Linked DNA regions of Homo sapiens: region 2 is linked to region 1. Evidence: fine-mapped expression QTL. A gene starts in region 1. The other region holds a variant in brackets. All regions are shown on one strand. Distances are from middle to middle.

Region 1 (12,957 bases):
TATGACAATCAACATGGCTTCTGTAAGCCAATGTCAATGTAAAAAGGGGATAGGAGACTGCTCTTTTTTTTTTTTTTTTGTTTGTTTGTTTGTTTGTTTGTTTGAGACAGAGTCTCACTCTGTCGCCCAGGCTGGAGTGCAGTGGCAAGATCTCTGCTCACTGCAAGGTCCACCTCCCGGGTTCACGCCATTCTCCTGCCTCAGCCTCCCGAGTAGCTGGGACTACAGGCGCCCGCCACCACGCCTGGCTAATTTTTTGTATTTTTAGTAGAGATGGGGTTCCACTGTGTTAGCCAGGATGGTCTCCATCTCCTGACCTCGTGAACTGCCCGCCTCGGCCTCCCAAAGTGCTGGGATTAGGCGTGAGCCACCGCGCCCGGCTGAGGAGACTGCTTTTTAAAAAATGTAACCAAATGTAATGTGTGGATTTGTTTGGATCTTGAGTCAAACTAAGTCATTTTTCAGCCAAGGAAATTTGATTATGGATTGAATACTAAGAAAGTATGATTTAATAAGTGATATTATGGTAAATTTCCATATTTCTTAAGAGACATTGAAGTTAAAGGAGTGAAATGATATAATGCTTGGATTTGATTTAAAGTAACTTCATCAAGGAAAAACAAGAAGGCTGAGTGCTGTGGCTCACGCCTGTAATCCCAACACCTTGGGACGCTGAGGCGGGCGGATCACCTGAGGTCGGGAGTTCAAGACCAGCCTGACCAACATGGAGAAACCCCCATCTCTACTAAAAATACAAAATTAGCTGGGTATGGTGGCACATGCCCATAATCCCAGCTACTCGAGAGGCTGAGGCAGGGGAATCGCTTGAATCCAGGAGGCGGAGGTTGCAGTGAGCCAAGATTGCACCATTGCACTCCAGCCTGGGCAACAAGAGCGAAACTCTGTCTCAAAAAAAAAAAAAAAAAAAAGAAAAAAGAAAAACAACAAAAAGAGAAAGTAAATGTGGCAAATTTGATAACTGTTGCATCTGGTCATGGAGATTCTTTGTATAGTTCTACTTTTACGCTGCTTAAAAATGTTTGATAAAACCAACATGGCATATGTATACCTATGTAACAAACCTGCACATTGCGCACATGTACTGTAGAACTTAAAGTATAAAAAAAAAATTTGATAAAATGGTTGGGTGCAGTGGCTCACGCCTGTAATCCCAGCACTTTGGGAGGCCAAGGCAGGTGGATTGCTTGAGGTCAAGAGTTCAAGACCAGCCTGACCCACATGGTGAAACCCCGTCTCTACTAAAAATACAAAAATTAGCTAAGTGTGGTGGCAGGCACCTGTGATCCCAGCTACTTGGGAGGCTGAGGCAGGAGAATTGCTTGAACCCAGAAGGCAGAGGTTGCAGTGAGCCGAGATAGTGCCATTGCACTCCAGCCTGGGAGACGAGTGACTCTTTCTCAAAAAAAAAAAAATTCAATAACACACATATATACCCAATAGATAACTCTTCATTTTAAGCTAACCAGTGGTTGGACTCACAGTCTGGCCCCAACTTACCTTTGCAGTTTGATCACTCAACAATAAGACTCAGTTCTAGCCTCACTATACTATGTGACACTTTTACATTGGCCACTCACTTTAAGGCCTATTCTTTGTGTTCAAGCTGTTTCTTCTTTTTTTTTCTTCCCTAACTGGGCAATTACTTATCTTTCAAGGACTAGGTTAGATGTGACTTGTAAGTTTTCACCAATCTTTTGTTCATACTACTACTGGGTTACCTCATACTGTAGATACTATCTTCTTATGCCATGGTAAGCGTTCCTTAAGGGAATATAGCACAAAAGTTAAGGGCACAGTTTCTAGATCCAGACTGCCTGAGGTCACATCCTGGTTTAGCTACTGACTAGCTGTGTTACCTAGGGCAAGTAACTTCATCTCTCTGTCTGCCTTGGGTAAGTAACTTAACCTTTCTGTGTCTGAGCTGTGTTGCCTTGGGCAAGCAACTTAACCTTTCTATGCTTCCATTATCTCATCTGTAAAATCGCATTTACTTCATAGAGTTGTATTATTATTTTTATTTTTAGAGATGGAGCCTCGCTTTGTTGCCCAGGCTGGAGTGCAATGGTGCCATCTCAGCTCACTGCAATCTCCATCTCCTGGGTTCAAGCGATTCTTCTGCCTCAGCCTCTGGAGTAGCTGGGATTACAGGCATGCGCCACCACGCCCAGCTAATTTTTGTATTTAGTGTAGAGACAGGGTTTCATCATGTTGGCCAGGCTGGTCTTGAACTCTTGACCTGAGGTGATCTGCCTGCCTCGGCCTCCCAAATGAGCCACTGCGCCCAGCCTTCATAGAGTTGTATTAATCTTCCTAAATGGGTAAGAAAGGGTTCAGAACAGTTTCTGACACACAGTTAAATATTCAACAAATGCTAATTTATAAGGTTAGGACTCTCTTTTTGAGACAGGGTCTCACTCTGTCACCCAGGCTGGAGTGCAGCGGCACAATCATGGCTTACTGCAGCCTCTACCTCCTGGACTCAAGCAATCCTCTGGCTTCAGCCTCCTGAGTAGCTGGAACAACAGATGAGCACAACCATGCCCAGCTAATTTTTATTTTTTGTAGAGACCGGATTGCCATGTTGCCCAGGCTGGTCTCAAACCTCTGGGCTCAAACAATCCTCCTGCCTTAGCCTCCCAAAATGCTGAGATTACAGGAATGAGTCACTGCACTCAGCCCAGGACTATTTGTTTTCATATTCCTCCTCACACCCAGTTTAGTGTCTGGCATGTAGATGCTCAGTGAATGATTGATTTGGGTAGTTTTGGTTCTTTATACGGGTCTTCAGGTTAGTCCCAATGTACTGGCATGGAGCTAGTTACTTGAGCAGGTCTTCACAAAGGTCTGAGTAGCAGGTGATAAAAGGGGTTGTGAAGTCTGGACTCCTAACTTAAGTGGTGGAGATGCTAAAAGAGAAACAAAGGCAGCAGAGTTGCTGAGGGTAGGGAGTATGGCATTTATTAACCCTGTGTTTCCCCCGTCACTGGTCACTGCTCTTGACTCGTAGAACAACAGGTACAGAACTGCAAGGGATCATCCCCAGCTCCGTGATCACCAGATCCACAAGCTCTGGGGGAGTCACATCATAGACTAGATTCAACAACCGTAGGGATGCGTGGTTCTGCCAGTTAGCCAGCGCAACATGTTCTCCCCGCTTACATTGCAGATCATCAGGGTCATCTGCAATGGAAGGCGTACCCATTATGTTCTTTCAGAAAAGAAGTTCTAGTTTATCCGCCCCTCTCCCTCCCTCTCAAGTCTTCACAGGTAGCTGGAGGCTTCTCTTTTGCCTCCTTACCTAGCTCATTAGAGACAAAGGCATCAGTCTGCACACGCTCACAGAACTTGTATGTTTCACAGCAAACCAGCACTGGTACATTATGGGCTCGAGCCACCAGGGCTAACTGTGCTGTCCCTACCCGTGACATCACAGACCCGTTGGCCAAGAGTGCATGAGCTCCCAATAGCACCTTGGAAACCTGTTTCACAGGAGAAGAGGAAGAAAAAAATGTCATTGTTGTATCAATGCAAAATAAGGTCCCCTACTTACAGGACAGCAACATTAAGACAAGTAATAAATCTCAACACCTGTGAAAAGAAGGGAAAGAAACAAAAACAGACAACAAGTAATAAATCTTTTTTTTTTTTTTCTTTGAGATGAAGTTCTGCTCTTGTTGCCCAGGCTGGAGTGCAATGGCGCGATCTCGGCTCACCACAACCTCTGCCTCCTGGGTTCAAGTGATTCTCCTGCCTCAGCCTCCCGAGTAGCTGGGATTACAGGCATGCACCACCACTCCCAGCTGATTTGTTGTATTTTTATATTTTTAGTAGAGACGGGGTTTCTCCACGTTGGTCAGGCTGGTCTCGAACTCCCAACCTCAGGTGATCTGCCCGCCTCAGCCACCCAAAGTGCCAGGATAACAGGCGTGAGCCACTGAGTCCGGCAATTAATAAATCCTTTTTTTTTTTTTTTTTGAGATGGAGTCTCGCTCTGTCGCCCAGGCTGGAGTGCAGTGGCATGATCTCGGCTCACTGCAAGCTCTGCCTCCTGGGTTCACGCCATTCTCCTGACTCAGCCTCCAGATTAGCTGGGACTACAGGCGCCCACCACCACGCCCGGCTAATTTTTTGTATTTTTAGTAGAGACGGGGTTTCACTGTGTTAGCCAGGATGATTGTGAACTCCTGACCTCGTGAACTGCCCTCCTCGGCCTCCCAAAGTGCTGGAATTACAGGCTTGAGCCACTGTGCCCGGCCTAATAAATCTTAATGATGGCTTTTCTTCTGTGAAAACACCTGACCACTGACCCACCAAATCTCCCACAGGAAAAGTAAACTTTGAAGTTACTTTTGTCTTGTTCCCTCTTCCTGGTTGCTAGTTTAATGTAATGTTTTTGCAATAGCTAGACTGCTGTAATATACTGTCAGTGTTTTTCCAATTAAATAGAAACAGAGCTATATAATTATTTTTTTTGACACAGGGTTTCATTCTGTCACCCAGGCTGGAGTGCAGTGGTGCAATGACAGCTCACTGTAGCCTCAACCTCCTGGGCTCAAGCAGTCCTCTCACCTCAGCCTCCTAAGTAGCTGGAACTACATGCGCATGCCACCATGCCCGGGTGTGTGTGTGTGTGTGTGTGTTCAAGCAGTCCTCTCACCTCAGCCTCCTAAGTAGCTGTGTGTGTGTGTGTGTGTGTGCGTGCGCGCGCGCACGCACTCAAGCAGTCCTCTCACCTCAGCCTAAGTAGCTGGAACTACATGCGCATGCCACCATGCCCGGGGTGGGGGTGGGGTGGGGTGTGTGTGTGTGTGTGTGTGTGTGTGTGTGTGTGTGTGTGTGTGTACAGGGTCTCATTATGTTGAGCAGGCTGGTCTTGAACTCCTGGGCTCAAGTGATCCTCCTGCCTTAGTGCTGAGATTGCAGGCATTGAGCCATGGCACCAAGCCAGGGCTATATAATTCTAATATTTTTAAATAATTGTGGCTGGGCACAGTGGCTCATGCCTATGATCCCAGTACTTTGGGAGGCCGAGACAGGGGGAACTGCTTGAGCCCAGGAGTTCCAGCCTGGGCAATGTAGCGATATCCCATCTCTACAAGAAAAATAAAAAACTAGCTGGGCATGGTGGCACACACCAGTAGTCCCAGCTACTCAGAGGCGGAGGTGGGAAGATCACCTGAGCCCAGGAGGTCAAGACTGCAGTGAGCTGTGATCACGTCGCTGCACTCCATCCTTATCTCAAAACAAAAACAAAACTGTAACTTTGGGAAGGTGAGATTATGTCTATACTACTACACCTTTTCACCGCCAACTTTGGAGTCCTTTTCCTCTGTACTTACCTCTGGGAGCACATAGGAGGCTGCAGGAATCAGCAGGTAGGAGGCTGGGACACCAGCATGGACTAGAGAACGTAGTGTGTGCCTTCCTTCCAGCCATGGCCGGCTGTCCACCACTACCACCCGAAACCGCCGGCCCTCTGTCCAAGCCTCCTGAAGAATTCGTGATACCAGAGATGAGCTAGAGTGAATGAAGAGGAGGATTCAGTTATAAATGTCAGTAACTGATGACTAACTTATTCCCAAAGGCAAGTGGGTAGTCCCTTCTTCAGATCATTCCAACTCCCAATCTGCTCAGTCACAAGGTCTGGACCATACCATCCATATACCAGGATCACATCTCCATTACTGATCTTCTGGTAAGCAAAGCGTGAAATTGCCTGAGCTGCTAGCACAATCTTCTCTTGCACATACCGATCAATGGCTGCTCGAAGTTCTGACTTGGCCTAAATGGAGTAAAATCCTTAGTGAACAAGAAATGGACACTTTTATCCCTCTGATGATCATGCCAGGTGCTTGAATATGTGTATGATGACAAGCCTATAGAGGGCTCAGAGATGGCACAAGTCAGAATGGCCAAACCATTCCTTAACCCTTGACTAGGGCAAAAAAAGGCTTACGTTGGCCTTCCCGGGAGTTTTTAACATGTTTCTTAATTTTACCCACAGGTGCATGCCTTCCTTATTTCTCATACTCATCACCTCCTCTTCCCGCTTGGAACTGCCCACACTGGTGATTTCCTTGTTAAGGAACTTGATGGCGTTGTGCATGCTCGCTGACAGGGGACGGCACTGAGTCAGGAAGCTATAATACAACAGCAATACCTTATATCTGCGCAACTCTTCACAACTTACAAAGCCTTCACATTTAAAAAAAAAGTCTTTAAAAAGAAAATAGAACACAAAATGAAAAGAGAGATAGAAAAGCAGGAAAAAGAGTACAAGACAAAGATTGGGCGAGCTGGGAGTGGACTTATAGTGTTGTCCCTACCTCATGTAGGGTTTTAGTTTATTCACTAGATCCCTGGAGAGTTCTTCATTAGGCGGTGTTGTGTAATCCTGAATCACCTATAGGGTACACAAGGTGATCTGCAAAATACCCCTTAATAAAGATCTCTGAACGGGGGCTGGGGGTAAGCTTCACTGAGGAAAATGTTCTGAGGGTAGGAGTATTCCCTCTGTCCCCCAGAGATGACCTTGGGTGACAGAAGCTGGGGTAGTATTGGGGGAGGTGGGGTTGGATCATAAGAGAGAACAGGATGGGACATACCTGCTGCAAGGCACGAAGCAGGGCAATACACCGGGCATTGGAGCCACTGACCAGGCCCTGGGAGTACTGCAGGCCGAGTCGCACCATGGCTGGGTGGATCACAGAGGATGGGATGCTGATGGGATGGCGGTGTCACATACTTTGAAAGGGAGCTTGAGCATCTACTGCCCACCTGCCCCTGATGAAAAGGAACTCCCTTCACTAGCAGATTTCCCCACTCCTCTACAGTTCTGCCTTGGGTTCATACTTTTTCCTACAGAGTCCATCTCAGATTACTAGAAACTTTCAATACTGACTTACTAAAACTCCTCAGACTCAAAAGTTATGACAATTTCATAGGATCCTACCTCATAAACTGGGTCAGAGAGTTTTGTCTGCTGTACTGGGGTAGGTGAGAGAAGAGACTGACTTTGGATCCATAATCCTTTCGTGTAGGAACCTTGACAAAACAAGGGAACAGGACCAATGGCCCAGAGTTTAAAAAGGATGGGATAAAGCTGGAAAGGAAGTGAACAGTAAGACTACTCTGACCCAAGCACCTATCCTTCTCACTTTGCACCCAGCACCTTTCCTCCCTCCAGTCCATTTCCCTAGGCTCTTTCTAGCCAGGCACCAAACCCACTTCCTACCTGTTGACGCTCTGGTTTTTTAACAAGCCTTCTCAGAAGTAGGTCATCAACCTGAGGGTACTCAGGGAGACGCTTCACTCCTGAAAGATAATCATCATGTTTTCAGGACACTGTAGGTCTTGAAATGTGTAATTTGCTCTTAGGGTATAAGGGGCATCAAGAAAAACAGGATGAGGTGGAGAAAACGGGAGAATAGGGTAGAAAAGGAAATAGGGATAGGATAATGGGGTTGCAGGAACAATTCAGAACTCTGGGTCCCAAGAATGAGAGGGGAGAGCTGTTTTACTATTGGGCAGCCTGAGCTGGCGTTATAATTAGGAGTAAGGGAGGTCTTAAAATGAAGGGAAGATACCTGAGGGGGTTTCTCCAGCTGTGCTGGGGCTGGCCTTAGGAGGTGGTCCTCCTTGTTCCCCTTTTCTTGCCTGTTTCAGGGCCCGCTCGGCCTCCTGCTTGGCTCGACGCTCAGCCCGAAGTTCGGCCTTACTCCGACCAGCTGGAACTTTCTCCCGAGGAGTGCCCAACTGAATGCCCGATTCTGGCAGTTCTCTGGTTGGGCCTACTAAAAGCATTAAAAAAAAAAATGCCCAAGCTGCAGGCAGGTGATATCCGTGCCCCAGCTAAAACTAGCTTCTCTCCTTGTAAACCTCTTTGCTTTACACACTTGCTCAAATCAACTTTGTCCTGTCTCTCCCTTATCTCTCCCACCACATCCCTCTACCAGCTCCACACCCCAGCCCTTTAAAAGAGACCCCTCACTCACCTTGACATTGGGCTGCAGATACAGCAGAGCCAGTCTCTGGTTCTGCCCCCTTTTCTTCCTTCCGTTTCTTCTTCTGCTGTTTCTTTTCCTTCCGAAGCTGCAGCTTTTCTTCTTTGGTCATTTCCCTCCCCACTGCCTGAGACACAGACATAGGATACTGCTCTTCCCCAACAATTCCAAAGGGGAACAAATACTATTGGATGCTTACAAGATTTCCACATGGTTAAATCCCTAGTTCTTCCTAACTTCCACAAGCTACCTGTTGCAAGCTTACATCCACAGAGGCTGACGTTTCTCCTCCAGGGACAGAATCATATATCCCTAGGGTTGCAAGACCTCTGTAAAATCTCCTGGCTTTACTGAGAAATAAACCGACACGGGATGGGAGCTGGGGCGGAATAAAGCTGGCACAGCCTCCTGCGTAGCGCTTGGCAGGCGGCTTGGGAGGGAAGCCTCACTTACCCCAGGCCCAGGGGGAAGCTCCGCCTTCATCCCGGATCCCGAGTCTGCATCAGAAAACAGGGCACAAAGTGAGCCAGAGAGACTCCGGGAGGGTTTGGGGGCACGAGTACTCGGCGCAGCCGGCTGCTGGGTTGGCATGACCACGGATCCGCCGGCAGGCGCGAGGCGAGCCAGGGATCCGCGTGGGGACGCACTGCGCGGCGGATCAAAGGAATGGAGGGGTCACCGACCCTCCTCACAGCAACCAGCCGGTGCGCGGCGCGGGACTGCGCTCGAGACTGTGTAGACCGGAGCCCAGCGTGGCGCTGGAACGGAGCGGCGGGGCCCAAAGGCGCTCAAGGCCCGGCACTAGCTGTCCGGAGCTCGTCGGCTCCGCGTACCAGTAGGCAGGCCCGGCTCTTCACTCACCCTCGCGAACAGCCACGGCCACAGCAGCCATCGCCCTCAGTCCTAGGCTCCGCCCGCCGTGGTCACGGAGCCGCCCCGCTGCCTCGCTCCGCGGCTGCAGGGTCCACAGCGCCACCTGGGCTGGAGGCTGAGCCGCAGAAGCGAAGCGCGCAGCCCCAATCGGACTACAATTTCCGACGGGCCCCGAGGCCCCGCCCCGCACTACGGGTTGCAATGAGGGCCAACTCCACTTTGGGCTCCCTATCCGGACAGGTGGCTCTTGCCCTTTAGACTACAGTTCCCAGCATGCCCAGGCGATTGCGTCCCAGAACCGACGTCCCACCGCCTTCCCACATCGGATCGCAGGGCTCCCAAAATGGCGAGTGAGGCTGCGGGGACTCGCTGAGCAGCGGAGGGGGAGCGTGCAGAGCCGCTGCGGCCCTCACAGTCCGGAGCCCGGCCGTGCCGTGCCGTAGGGAACATGCACTTTTCCATTCCCGAAACCGAGTCCCGCAGCGGGGACAGCGGCGGCTCCGCCTACGTGGTGAGGAGCGGCCGGAGCCGAGCCGGGCCGGGCAGGGGCGGGGATAACGGGCCCGAGCCATCTCGGAGCGGCCTCTGAGGCCTGACCGCCACCCTTCGGGCCTGGTCCTGGGCCGCCGACTCCCGACGGCCTCTCTGGGAGCTTATCTCATGTGTGTGATTCGTGCAGTGGTCGCCCGAGCTCCTGTAGGCCCTTAGGCCGGGTCGCTTCCCCGAGCTAGGCCGCAGCTGCCCTGGTGGGCGTCACTGGCCTCTTGGGCAGTGAGACTGCAACACAAGCGTCCGAATTTCCCCCGGACTGGCTCTTCAGCTTTGGGACTTGGCCCTGGCGAAAACAAGCGAACTATCCCTCGGGAGATTAGCGCGTTACTCCGGCGAGTTGCCAGGCAACTTCCGGCCAGGGTTCTCAGGGGGGTTGCGCAGACCGCAACCCTAAAATGCTTGACTACTTTTGTGTCCTCAGGCCTATAACATTCACGTGAATGGAGTCCTGCACTGTCGGGTGCGCTACAGCCAGCTCCTGGGGCTGCACGAGCAGGTGGGACTAGCACCCCTGCCTTGAGACAGCTTCAAGCCCTTCCCTACACGTGGACATCAGTGTCTCCCTTTACCCGCTCTTCTTGTTCCCGTAGGCTGTAGTTCCCCTTTAATCACTGCCACAGGGTAGGGCCCTGGTTTATCTTGTCTGACATTTCCGGGAACTCCCTAAGAAGCTTAATGTCCGCGCAACAACTGCTCCTTCCTGTTCTTATATTCTGGTTTTCTGTCCAGTCTTACTGCTCTAGTAGCCTTTACCCCTGCATGGACAAACCAACCCCTCCCCCCACTACCTCCACCCAGGCTGTCAAAGCACATTCCTTCTGTCATCTGAGCGGCAACTTGAAATTCTTTTCCCTGCTTATACAAACGATTCACCGATTTCCTTTTGTGTTCTTCGGCTCATTTCAGTGTGTTTAGCTGTGCCAATTATCGTTATGTATCTGTGATGCAATGTTTCTCCTCCTTCCTTACCAGATCTTAAACTCTATTTAACTCAGTAGAGCTCCACTGATAATTAGTTGTGCAACCCTGAACAAGTTACCTGATATCTTTTTTTGGGACGGAGTTTCTCTCTTGTTGCCCAGGCTGGAGTGCAGTGGCACGATCTCGGCTCACTGCAACCTCTGCCTCCTGGGTTCAAGCGATTCTCCTTCCTCAGCCTCCTGAGTAGCTGGGATTACAGGCGGCTGCCTCCACACCCAGCTAATTTTTGTATTTTTAGTAGAGAGGGGTTTCACTATGTTGGCCAGGCTGGTCTCAAACTCCTGACCTCAGGTGATCCACCCACCTTGCCTCCCAAAATGCTGAGATTACAGGCATGAGGCCTGTAGAAACTGATTTCTTTGGGCCTCAGTTTCTACAACTGAAAGATGGATTCTTTGATCTGCAAAGTCCCTTTAAGTCCTAAGATATTTTGTGAACAGACTTAGCTATTAACTGTGCACTTTATAAAGCCCTTTCCTTCCTTTAAGGGTTCAGTGAACAGTCTTGCTAGGTGGTCAAGGGGCTCCCTATAGGTCCTGGCCCAGTACAAATCCTCCCCGTACTGTGGAGGGGCTGACTTGTACACAGTAAAATAGAGCACAACTTATATCTAGGACAGCTCCCTTGAGGTGCTACCGCTGTCAAAGGAATTGTTTCTCAGATGACCAGGGTAGACAGGGGAACAGGGACTGAGGGAAGGGAGGGGCACCCAAGAGAACATTATGAGCATATGTAGATTGCCTCATCTCATTTTCTGTGTTTATGTGAAGGGTTGTATCTCTTTCTCTAAATAGCTTCGGAAGGAGTATGGGGCCAATGTGCTTCCTGCATTCCCCCCAAAGAAGCTTTTCTCTCTGACTCCTGCTGAGGTAGAACAGAGGAGAGAGCAGTTAGAGAAGTACATGCAAGCTGGTGAGTGGTTGCAGGAAACTAGGTTGACTATATTGAGGACTATGGGGAGAGACTTAAAAACAGCTGGTTCTGTGGAAGGGCCTGATTTAATTTCTAGATCTAGGAAGGCTCTTGTTTGATCTGTTATGCAGTTAGCAAAGTAAATAGTGTACGAGGATGTGTAACTCTGTGTACTAGCAAAACAATTTGGGCACTAACATCTATGAGAAATACTAGTATAACACTAGTCTTAATATCAGTGGAGAGAACTTAATTTGTATCTGATGTGCTTTAGATTAACATCATTGTTATTTCCCTAGTTCTATAGACTGGACTCACCTAGATGGCAGCCAAGGGTGGGGCAGGTGAAGAATTTATGCAAACAGTGAGTGAGGTGAGGCCAGCTGGGGGATGTGGCAGGCCACCATCAGCCCAGGAAATGGGGTCGGGGGAACCTACTGAGAGGAGGACTGGGGAGCCAAGAGTGAGTGCTAAGTTCCTGTAATAATGTTCTCTTGTCCTCGTAGTTCGGCAAGACCCATTGCTTGGGAGCAGCGAGACTTTCAACAGTTTCCTGCGTCGGGCACAACAGGTAGGGCTTTGGGTGGGACCAAGATTTAAGGAAAGGACCTTGCTGGAAGGTCATGTCTTTTATTTTTTTGAGACAGAGTCTTGCTCTTTTGCACAGGCTGGAGTGCAGTGGTGCGATCTCAGCTCACTGCAATCTCCGCCTCCCGGATTCAAGCGATTCTCCTGCCTCAGCCTCCCAAGTAGCTAGAATTACAGGCGCCTGCCACCATGTCCGGCTCATTTTTGTATTTTTAGTGGAGACGGGGTTTTGCCGTGTTGGCCTGGCTGGTCTCGAACTCCTGACCTCAGGTGATCCACCCGCCTTGGCCTCCCAAAGTGCTGGGATTACGGGTGTGAGCCACCACACCCAGCCAGGCCATGTCATCTTAATAACAGAGGAGTCATCTTTTTTAATGGAATGGAACTTCTATTCTTATGAAATCAAAGAAATCACAGCCTATATTTAAGCAGCTGAGAATAAAGACACACAAGGGACCTAGAAATAGAGTTGGGCATAGGTCAAGGCAAGGGACAAGGCAGTGCTTCCCATCCCCATGTGTGCTCACAACAGGAGACACAGCAGGTCCCCACAGAGGAAGTGTCCTTGGAAGTGCTGCTCAGCAACGGGCAGAAAGTTCTGGTCAACGTGCTAACTTCAGATCAGACTGAGGATGTCCTGGAGGTGAGGCGCTTGTTCAGCACTGCCCCTTCTTCCCCTACATCCTGGGGTCCTGGGCTTGGAGAATGATTGGAACCAGCCAGTATGATGAGCTGTACTTCTATCCCTATCCCCAGGCTGTAGCTGCAAAGCTGGATCTTCCAGATGACTTGATTGGATACTTTAGTCTATTCTTAGTTCGAGAAAAAGAGGATGGAGCCTTTTCTTGTGAGTTTCTCTGGACTTGACTGCAGTACAAGGGTACTTCAGTAGAGTTTGCAGCCCCCCTAACTCCCCACCCCCACCCCCAGAATGAACATTGCCTCAGGGCACTTCTTTCTTGATTTCCCTTCCTTTAAATCTCACTATATTTTCATTTTTTTTTTTTTAACCTGTAGTTGTACGGAA
Region 2 (8,000 bases), 27 kb before region 1:
CTGTTCATTCTGGCATACTATAGTAGTCTCCCTAAGGCTAGTCTGTCCAGGTCTATCTGAGTAGATGTAACCTTGTGAACTGCTTTGGCCCCTAAATCTCTCTAGCTTCCCTCAGCCTGCCAGTAATGAACACTACAAATCAGAGAGGACTGACCAGCTCTAGTCAGCACTCTTATTCTTGGGACCAACTGAACCAGCATCAGGGGAAGGACAGGACTTATCTGTCATCTCTTTCAACATTCATTTTTCTTGTTTCTGGCTCCTAGAATCAGAAAAAAGGGCGGATGTGCAATCTTCACCTGTTTATTCGGTAGAGGGTGCCATCTTCAGGTAGCCCTTCACGTTGTACAGAAAACAATGGAGACTTCTCCTCCTGGGGCAGGTAGGGAGCGGCCTCACTGGGGGAAGACAAAGGGAACAGTCTAAATTTGGAAGTGTTTCACCCATCTCAGGGTTCCCATTATAGAGCCTCTGTCACCCTTTCGTCTCCAGTGGTGTCACCCTTCCTAAGCTACAGAGATGTTGCTTCAACTTACAGCTCAGATAACAAGTGCCACTTCCAGGCTAAAGGAATCCACTCAGCAAACTCCCAGTATGAATGTTTCTGCTCTCGGCTGGAGAAACAGAAGAAGCATTAATGAAGGAGAGGGATTCTACAGCCGCACAGTCCAATAAAACTTTCTGTGGGGATGGAAATGATCCATTATCTGTGCTCCCCAATATGCCAGTTGCTAGCTCCAATTAGCTACCAAGCACCTAAAATGTGGCTAGCGCAGCTGAGAAACAGAGCCTTTCATTTTATTTCACTTTAATTAAAGAGTTCTAGAGCTCTTGCCTCTAGAGCAGTGCTTTTTAGTAATGAATGTCATCACGGTATTCCACCCATGAGTGCTTCTCTTTCCCACGGCCCCACTTCAATACCGCCCTTGCACTCCTCTACCACCCCTTTATTAACCCCAGCCCCCTGTCCCCAAGTCTCACAAGTCCTTGGTGAGATGGAGGCACTTCCAAACAGGAGCCATGATATGATTTGGTAAGCCATTGGGAGCCATTCCTCGGCAGTGTGGTTTCTGTTTCTGAGGATCAAATTGAAGAAAATATAAGGGAGCAAATTCTACAGGTTGGACAAAGTCCCAGAGACAGCTCTTTCCCAGTTTTTATCTTCTTTGGCAATACCTCCCCCTCCAATCACTGCCCTATCAGCATCTTAAAAGATTTGTGTTTCAACCACTATAATGACTTCTTCACCTTCTGCTCTACTCCTCCATCGAAAATGCAAAATCTGTTACCTATTTTCTGTTCAGCTTCCTCAACATCTCCATGGTATTTGATTCACAGGATTCCCTTATGCCTCTTTGAAACTCCCGCCCTATGGAATAGTCTCCCTTACTCCTCTCCCCTCTCTTAATATTCCTTCACAGGTTCTCCCTTCTTGACAGGTCTCCTCGATGATGGTATTCCCCAGAGTTCCTGTCGTCTTCTCGCCCCTCTACACAGGCGCGCACGCGCACGCGCGCACACACACACACACACACACACTCCTGGTAATCTCATCTCATGTCCCATGGCTTTGACTACTGTCTTTTTGTTTTTTTGTTGTTTTTGAGATAGGGTCTCACTCTGTTGCCCAGGCTGGAGTGCAGTGGCGCAATCTTGGCTCACTGCAGCCCCAGCTTCTGCCTCCTGGGCTCAAGCAATCCTCTCACCTCTGCCTCCTGAGTAGCTGGGACTACAGGCACACCCCACTACACCTGGCTAATTTTTTTGTATTTTTTTGTAGAGACAAGGTTTCGCCATGGCCCAGACTGGTTTTGAACTCCTGGGCTCAAGCGATCCCTCCCCCTCGGCCTCCCAAAGTGCTGGGATTACAGGTGTGAGCCACCACACCTGGCCTTCTTTAAAATTTAGAGACAGGGTCTTGCTGTGTTGCCCATGCCAGACTTGAACTCCTGGGCTCAAGCAATCCTCTTGCCTCAGCCTCCTGAGTAGCTTGAAGTACAAATGCATACCACCAAACCCAGCTTGACTACCATCTTTATGCCTGATTATCAAGTTTACATTTCCGTCATGTAAACCTGACTCAGTCTCAACTTCTCTACAAGTTCTAGACAGTGTTGTGGCAAGCCATATTAGAGCATGAGGCAAATGGAAAAAAACAGTAATCAGTTGAAAAAATCAGTAAAGCCGGGCATGGTGGCTCATGCCTGTAATCCCAGCACTTTGGGAGGCCGAGGCGGGCGGATCACGAGGTCAGGAGTTCGAGACCAGCCTAACCAACACGGTGAAACCCCATCTCTACTAAAAATACAAAAATTAGCTGGGTGTGGTGGTGTGCACCCGTAATCTCAGCTACTTGGGAGGCTGAGGCGGGAGCATTGCTTGAACCCGGGAGGGGTGGAGGTTGTGGTGAGCTGAGATCATGCCATTGCACTCCAGCCTGGGCAATAAGAGCGAAACTCCGTCTCAAAAAAAAAAAAAAAAAAGAAAAAAAAAATCAGTAAAGATCCTGTCTTTATTTAAAATTTTGATATTTTGTTCATCATGGAACGAAATATCCATGATTTGTTGCATTGATTTTTTTAAATGTTGCATCAAAATAGCATTTATCTCAATTACTGAGGGTTTCTGTTATCCCTTAGATGTTGCACGTGAGGCAAGTAAGGCACTGGTCTCATATATGCAACTGGTGACCAGACATCTCCAGCAGAATGACCCATGGCCCATGGGCACCTCAAACTCAACATGTCAGAAAGTGAATTCTGTCAGGTGTGGTGGCTCACATCTGTAATCCCAGCACTTTGGGAGACCAAGGCGGGCAGATCACTTGAGGTCAAGAATTCAAGACCAGCCTGGCCAACATGGTGAAACCCCATCTCTACTAAAAATACAAAAGTTAGCTGAGCGTGGTGGGGCGTGCCTTTAATCCCAGCTACTTGGGAAGCCGAGGCAGGAGAATCACTTGAACCCAGGAGGCAGAGGTTGCAGTGAGATGAGATCACTCCACTGCACTCCAGCCTGGGTGACAGAGCAAGACTCTGTTTCAAAAAAAAAAAAAAAAAAAAAGGGAAAAAAGAAAGTGAATTCAACTTCTCCCCTCCCCACCTTTGCCCCTCCCACATCCCTCACCCTTTTCGTGTTCCCAGGTTCAGTGCATGATGCCACCATTTAAGCTGGAAACTGCTATTCAACTTCCTCCCTCCCTTCAATTCCCAAATACTGTTAATTCTCTTACATATTCCATTATGTGAGAGAACACAGAAACAAAAGAATTACAAAAATAAAAATAAAAAATTACCTTACATATCTCTTCTTTTTTTAAAGACAGAGTCTGGCTGGAGTGCAATAACGCGATCTCAGCTCACTGCAACCTCTGCCTCCTGGGTTCAAGTGATTCTCCTGCCTCAGCCTCCCGAGTAGCTGGGACTACAGGTGTATGCCACCACACCCAGCTAATTATTTTTGTATTTCTAGTAGACACAGGGTTTCACTATGTTGGCCAAGCTGGTCTCAAACCCCTGGCCTCAAGTGATCCACCTGCCTTGGCTTCCCAAAGTGCTGAGATTACAGGTGTGAGCTACCGCACCTGGCCTCTTACATATCTCTTGAATCTGCCCCCTCCCTGCTCTTCTCTTCCTTCACTGCTTGATTTAGGACCTATCTCTTACCTGGATAACTGAAACTGTCTTTTTTTTTTTTGAGACAGTTTCACACTGTCACCCAGGCTGGAATGCAATGGTGCAATCTCAGCTCACTGCAACCTCCGCCTACTGGGTTCAAGCGAGTCTCCTGCCTCAGCCTCCTGAGTAGCTGGGATTACAGGCGTGCGCCACCACATCCAGCTAATTTTTTTTTTTTTTATTTTTAGTAGAGACGGTGTTTCACTATGTTGGCCAGGCTGGTCTCGAACTCTTGACCTTGTGATCCACCCACCTTGGCCTCCCAAAGTG[C/CT]TGGGATTACAGGCGTGAGCCACCGCATCTGGCAAAGCTGTCTTCTGTCAACTATAGTTTGACCTATTTTCCCAACTGATGTTATTTTTCTACTTAAAAATGTTTGTTGTACAGTTTGTGTACAACTGAATTGTGTGTTTTGTTTTGTTTTGTTTTGTTTTTGAGATGGAGTCTCACTGTCTCACCCAGGCTGGAGTGCAGTGGCATGATCTCAGCTCACTGCAACCTCTCCCTGCCTGGTTTAAGTGATTCTCCTGTCTCAGCCTCCCAAGTAGCTGGGACTACAGGTGCGTGCCACCATGCCTGGCTAATTTTTGTATTTTTAGGAGAGACGGGGTTTCACTATATTGGTCAGTCTGGTCTCAAACTCCTGACCTCGGGTGATCCACCTGCCTTGGCCTCCCAAAGTGCTGGGATTACAGGCATAAGCCACCACGCCCAGCCTCAATTGTGTATTTTTAAATGGTTAAAATGGCAAATTTTATGTTATATACATTTTACCACCAAAAAAAACCATAAACAAAAACAGCCTTTGTTGGTTCCTATAGGTCTATGTCCTTTCATATTCTCCAGTTTAATCTCGCCTACAACTTTACTCCAGGCTCTATGCTCCAGCCATAATCAATTTATGGGAAAACCATCCTCTCTGGCAAACTTCTACTTATCCTTCAAGAAGCAATTCAACTATCATTCCTCTGTGAAGCCTAGGCAGTTAATTACCCTTTCCTTTATATGCCTAAATCATTTTGTTCACTCCTGGGGTAGTGCTGATTGCACTGTGAACTTGTGAGGCAGGATACACTGTCTTATTTACGTTTGTTGTGTTTCCTAACAGAGAACAGATACTCAATATATGAATGAATAATCTTGTTTACCATACCCCTTCTTCTGCGCTCTCCCTAATATGCCAAATGTTTTGGAAATGGACCCTTTTTTCTTTAACCTGTTTTGTCTATTATAGTTACCAGGTCAAAGCTGTCCTTCCTTTCTCAGTACCTTGCTGGTCCCCTAAAATCCTACTATGTCCCCATTCACTTTCTTGTCCATTGAGGTTACCCCTGAAGTAGATCCTCGTGGGGTGCTTCGGGGCACTACAGGCTCAGGTTCAGATGAGCTCTCACTTGGGCCCTCACTTTCTTCCACATCTTCAGCCTCAACCTGGAGAAAAAAGTCTTCATCCCGTGGAGCACCATCCACCTCTTCTCCACCTGGACAGGCTGCTGGCTGCCGGATCTTCTTCGGTTTGGTGGGGCTGCTCACCTTGGGGCCCTCAGGACAGGACACAGGGGCAGGCAGGGCTGTTGAGAGCTCTTCAGCCAGTTCCTGAAGATACAGAAGTGCCCTGTGGGAACGGACAGAGTCAGAGCCATTCTCACATATGACTGAGAACCCACGTTTCCAGACATGGTTGATTTTTATCTCAATGGAGCCTCCCAATAACCCCATGATTAACCAATTAACTCTATTAATTTCCCCTTCCCCCTTGGAAGATGAAAAACCAGAAATCTAAGTTATGTGACTTGGCCGAGATGACTGAGATAACAAATGTGGAATCTGAACCCAGGTCTTCTCACTCCAAGTTCAATACATTTTTCATCCTACCACAGTCAAAGAACACAGAGGGCAAGAGAAAGAATGGAACAGAATATATATACTGACATATACTGGACAGTAAAACAATAAAGAGCTGGGTAAAGTTTGTGAAAAATGGCATAGGACATAAAGTACAGACAATAATTCTTAGATAAACCAAGTTAGCAATACATACCATTAATAGTGCTGCGGTAAGAGCCTAAAGGACTGCTCAAGTCCCTAGAATCCAGACACCACCCCTGCTTACCTAATACCTCATCAGTCTTCTCTCTCCAACATCTGCCCCACCCTGATCCCTTCACCCAACCCCCCTCCACCAAGCTATGCCCCACAATCCTTACACTTGGGCAGCCCTTCGGCGGGGTCGTTCCCCAGAAGGGGTCTCAAAGTCCTCAGGGGGCCTCTTTGGAGATTGAGATTCTGGCCGATCTAGGTCTTTTGACAACTTCAGCAGCAGCAGCTCTGCCTTGGACTTTCGACCTCGTTTCTTAGGCATGGGGGTGGACAGAGGGTTGGATTGATCTAAGAGACCAGGAACCAGTGGGGCTGATGGAGGATTAGGCTGTTGGGGCCTTTTGGGGCCTTTTCGTGTCCTACCACCTCTCTTCCGGCCAGGCTTTGAGGCCCTAGGCTTTGAGACCTTTGACATCTCTGAAGAAAGATCTGTGGAGAAGAATATGGGTCTGTGAGATGGGACCAGAACTCAAACCTCTATGGAAAAGATTACACTGTACCCAGGTTTGTAAGATCCTATGAGCTCAATCTGCTCTTTCATCTTAAGCTTGGCATGGGGAATAAAAAGATAAGAGGACAAGGTACATACCTGGCTGTTCCAGTCTGGAGAGGCTTTCCTGCTCTGGAGGGAGCCTCCTCTGATCAGGAGAATCCTCAAATCCAGGCAAAGGGGTAGGTAATGACATCTCTACGGAAGCCTCTGCACTGGTCATTTCTGAAGAGGTCTTGACATCAAGCTGATTTAGCACCTCTTGTCCAGGAGAGTCTACCACAGTCATGTTCCCCACGGGGCCGGCCTCCCCCAGGGCAACATAGCCGACCCCGCAGGTATCCATCAGCACCCCCCAAAATGGCTGCCCCTGCATACAGAGACACACAAATGAGTAGAGGACAAAAACTATTTGTACTAGCTCAGATTTTTATTTCCCCATCTTTTCTCCCTCATTCTCACACTCATAACCAAGTTCCCTGATTATTCACTTATTCAACAATATTTACTAAGCACCTTCTATATGTCAGGACTGTTCTGGAAACTGGTAATATGAGCCAGGTGCGGTGGCTCACACCTGTAATCCCAGCACTTAGGGAGGCTGAGGCAGGAAGGCAGCTTGAGCTTAGGAGTTTGAGGCTAGCCTGGGCAACACAGCAAGACCCCTTCTCTAGCAAAATAAAATAAAATAAAAAAATTAAAAACAAAAAAGGAAACTGGTGATATGACAATAAACAAGACAGACAAGGTCCCTGCCCTCATGGAACTTACATTTTGGTGAAGCAGACAATAAACAAGTAAACAAATAAAGCTTCCATTTTTTTTTTTTTTTAAAGACGGAGTTTCACTCTCGTTGCCCAGGCTGGAGTGTAATGGGGCAATCTCAGCTCACTACAACCTCCACCTCCTGGGTTCAAGCAATTCTCCTGCCTCAGCCTCCTGAGTAGCTGGGATCAAGGTGCGCACCACCACGCCCAGCTAATTTTTGTATTTTTAATAGAGATGAGGTTTCACCATGTGGGCCAGGCTGGTCTCAAACTCCTGACTTCAGGTGATCCACCCGCCTCAACCTCCCAAAGTGCTGGGATTACAGATAATGAGTCACTGCGCCTGGCCATAAAGCTTCCATTTATTAAATGCTAACTATGTGCCAAGCACTATACTAAGTGCTATACATACATTATCTAATTTAAAGCTCATATATTTTCTTGTAAGGATGAAGCAGTGAATGCACAATTATTTAACCTCTGTCTCTGAAACCCAATGAAATAAAACACACACACACAGACATACACACACTCCAAAAAAGAAGAGAGAGAAAAATTTGTCTAGCATGAATCTAGGAAAGGGACACCAACTTCCTCAAAATATACTACAAAAAAGAGCTGCCAGATACTACAAAATTTAGACCAAAGTGAAGAGGCATACTTAATGTTAACATCTCTTTCTGTAAAGATTAGTCAAGGAATAAGTTTATTTAAGAATAAGTAAAAGGCCAGGCAGGATGGCTCATGCCTGTAATTCCAACACTTTGAGAGGCCAAGGAAGAAGGACTGCTTGAGGCCAGGAGTTCAAGACCAGTCTGGGCAACATAGGGAGACCTCATCTCTACAAAAAATTTTAAAAGTTAGCCGGGCATGGTGGTGCGCACCTGTAGTCCCAGCTACTTGGAAGGCTGAGACAGGAGGATTGCTTGAGCCTAGGAGTTCGAGGTTACAGTGAGCTATGATGGTGTT

Which allele goes with the higher level. Alleles are on the strand shown, and positions count from the first base shown. SD is a standard deviation of normalised expression in the study named.
With allele CT in place of C in region 2, the expression in thyroid of the gene that starts at base 8,940 in region 1 is higher (moderate effect, 0.51 SD a copy in GTEx).

What was found. PIP is the estimated chance that this variant, and not a neighbour inherited with it, causes the effect.
Region 2: its variant is the best candidate, but not a certain one, in a credible set for the expression of EIF2B4 in thyroid (GTEx, PIP 0.52).

Annotation. Positions count from the first base shown.
Region 1 is chr2:27,361,399-27,374,355 of GRCh38, forward strand. EIF2B4 (eukaryotic translation initiation factor 2B subunit delta) reads right to left here and starts at 8,940. Exons shown (of 13, transcript NM_001034116.2): 1 at 8,886-8,940; 2 at 8,478-8,521; 3 at 8,016-8,151; 4 at 7,608-7,814; 5 at 7,256-7,335; 6 at 6,974-7,065; 7 at 6,627-6,741; 8 at 6,348-6,424; 9 at 6,059-6,161; 10 at 5,676-5,803; 11 at 5,361-5,538; 12 at 3,320-3,500; 13 at 2,954-3,201. The coding sequence starts at 8,916. The coding sequence ends at 3,002. It overlaps SNX17 (sorting nexin 17), which reads left to right and starts at 9,218. Exons shown (of 15, transcript NM_014748.4): 1 at 9,218-9,408; 2 at 9,871-9,945; 3 at 11,225-11,342; 4 at 11,849-11,913; 5 at 12,463-12,573; 6 at 12,687-12,777; 7 at 12,948-12,957. The coding sequence starts at 9,346. GTF3C2-AS2 (GTF3C2 antisense RNA 2) reads left to right here. Exons shown (of 4, transcript NR_183827.1): 4 at 6,026-6,482. RefSeq lists enhancers at 8,186-9,147, 8,621-8,900, 9,121-9,210, 9,148-10,109, 9,231-9,290 and 1 more.
Region 2 is chr2:27,336,945-27,344,944 of GRCh38, forward strand. It overlaps GTF3C2 (general transcription factor IIIC subunit 2), which reads right to left. Exons shown (of 19, transcript NM_001035521.3): 2 at 6,364-6,634; 3 at 5,882-6,203; 4 at 5,004-5,289; 5 at 982-1,076; 6 at 537-614; 7 at 300-398. The coding sequence starts at 6,610. GTF3C2-AS1 (GTF3C2 antisense RNA 1) reads left to right here. Exons shown (of 4, transcript NR_038427.1): 3 at 267-382; 4 at 493-859. Among named protein-coding and RNA genes, the nearest start is that of GTF3C2-AS1, 5.4 kb to the left of the region's middle. The variant C/CT (reference allele first, on the strand shown) is at 3,948.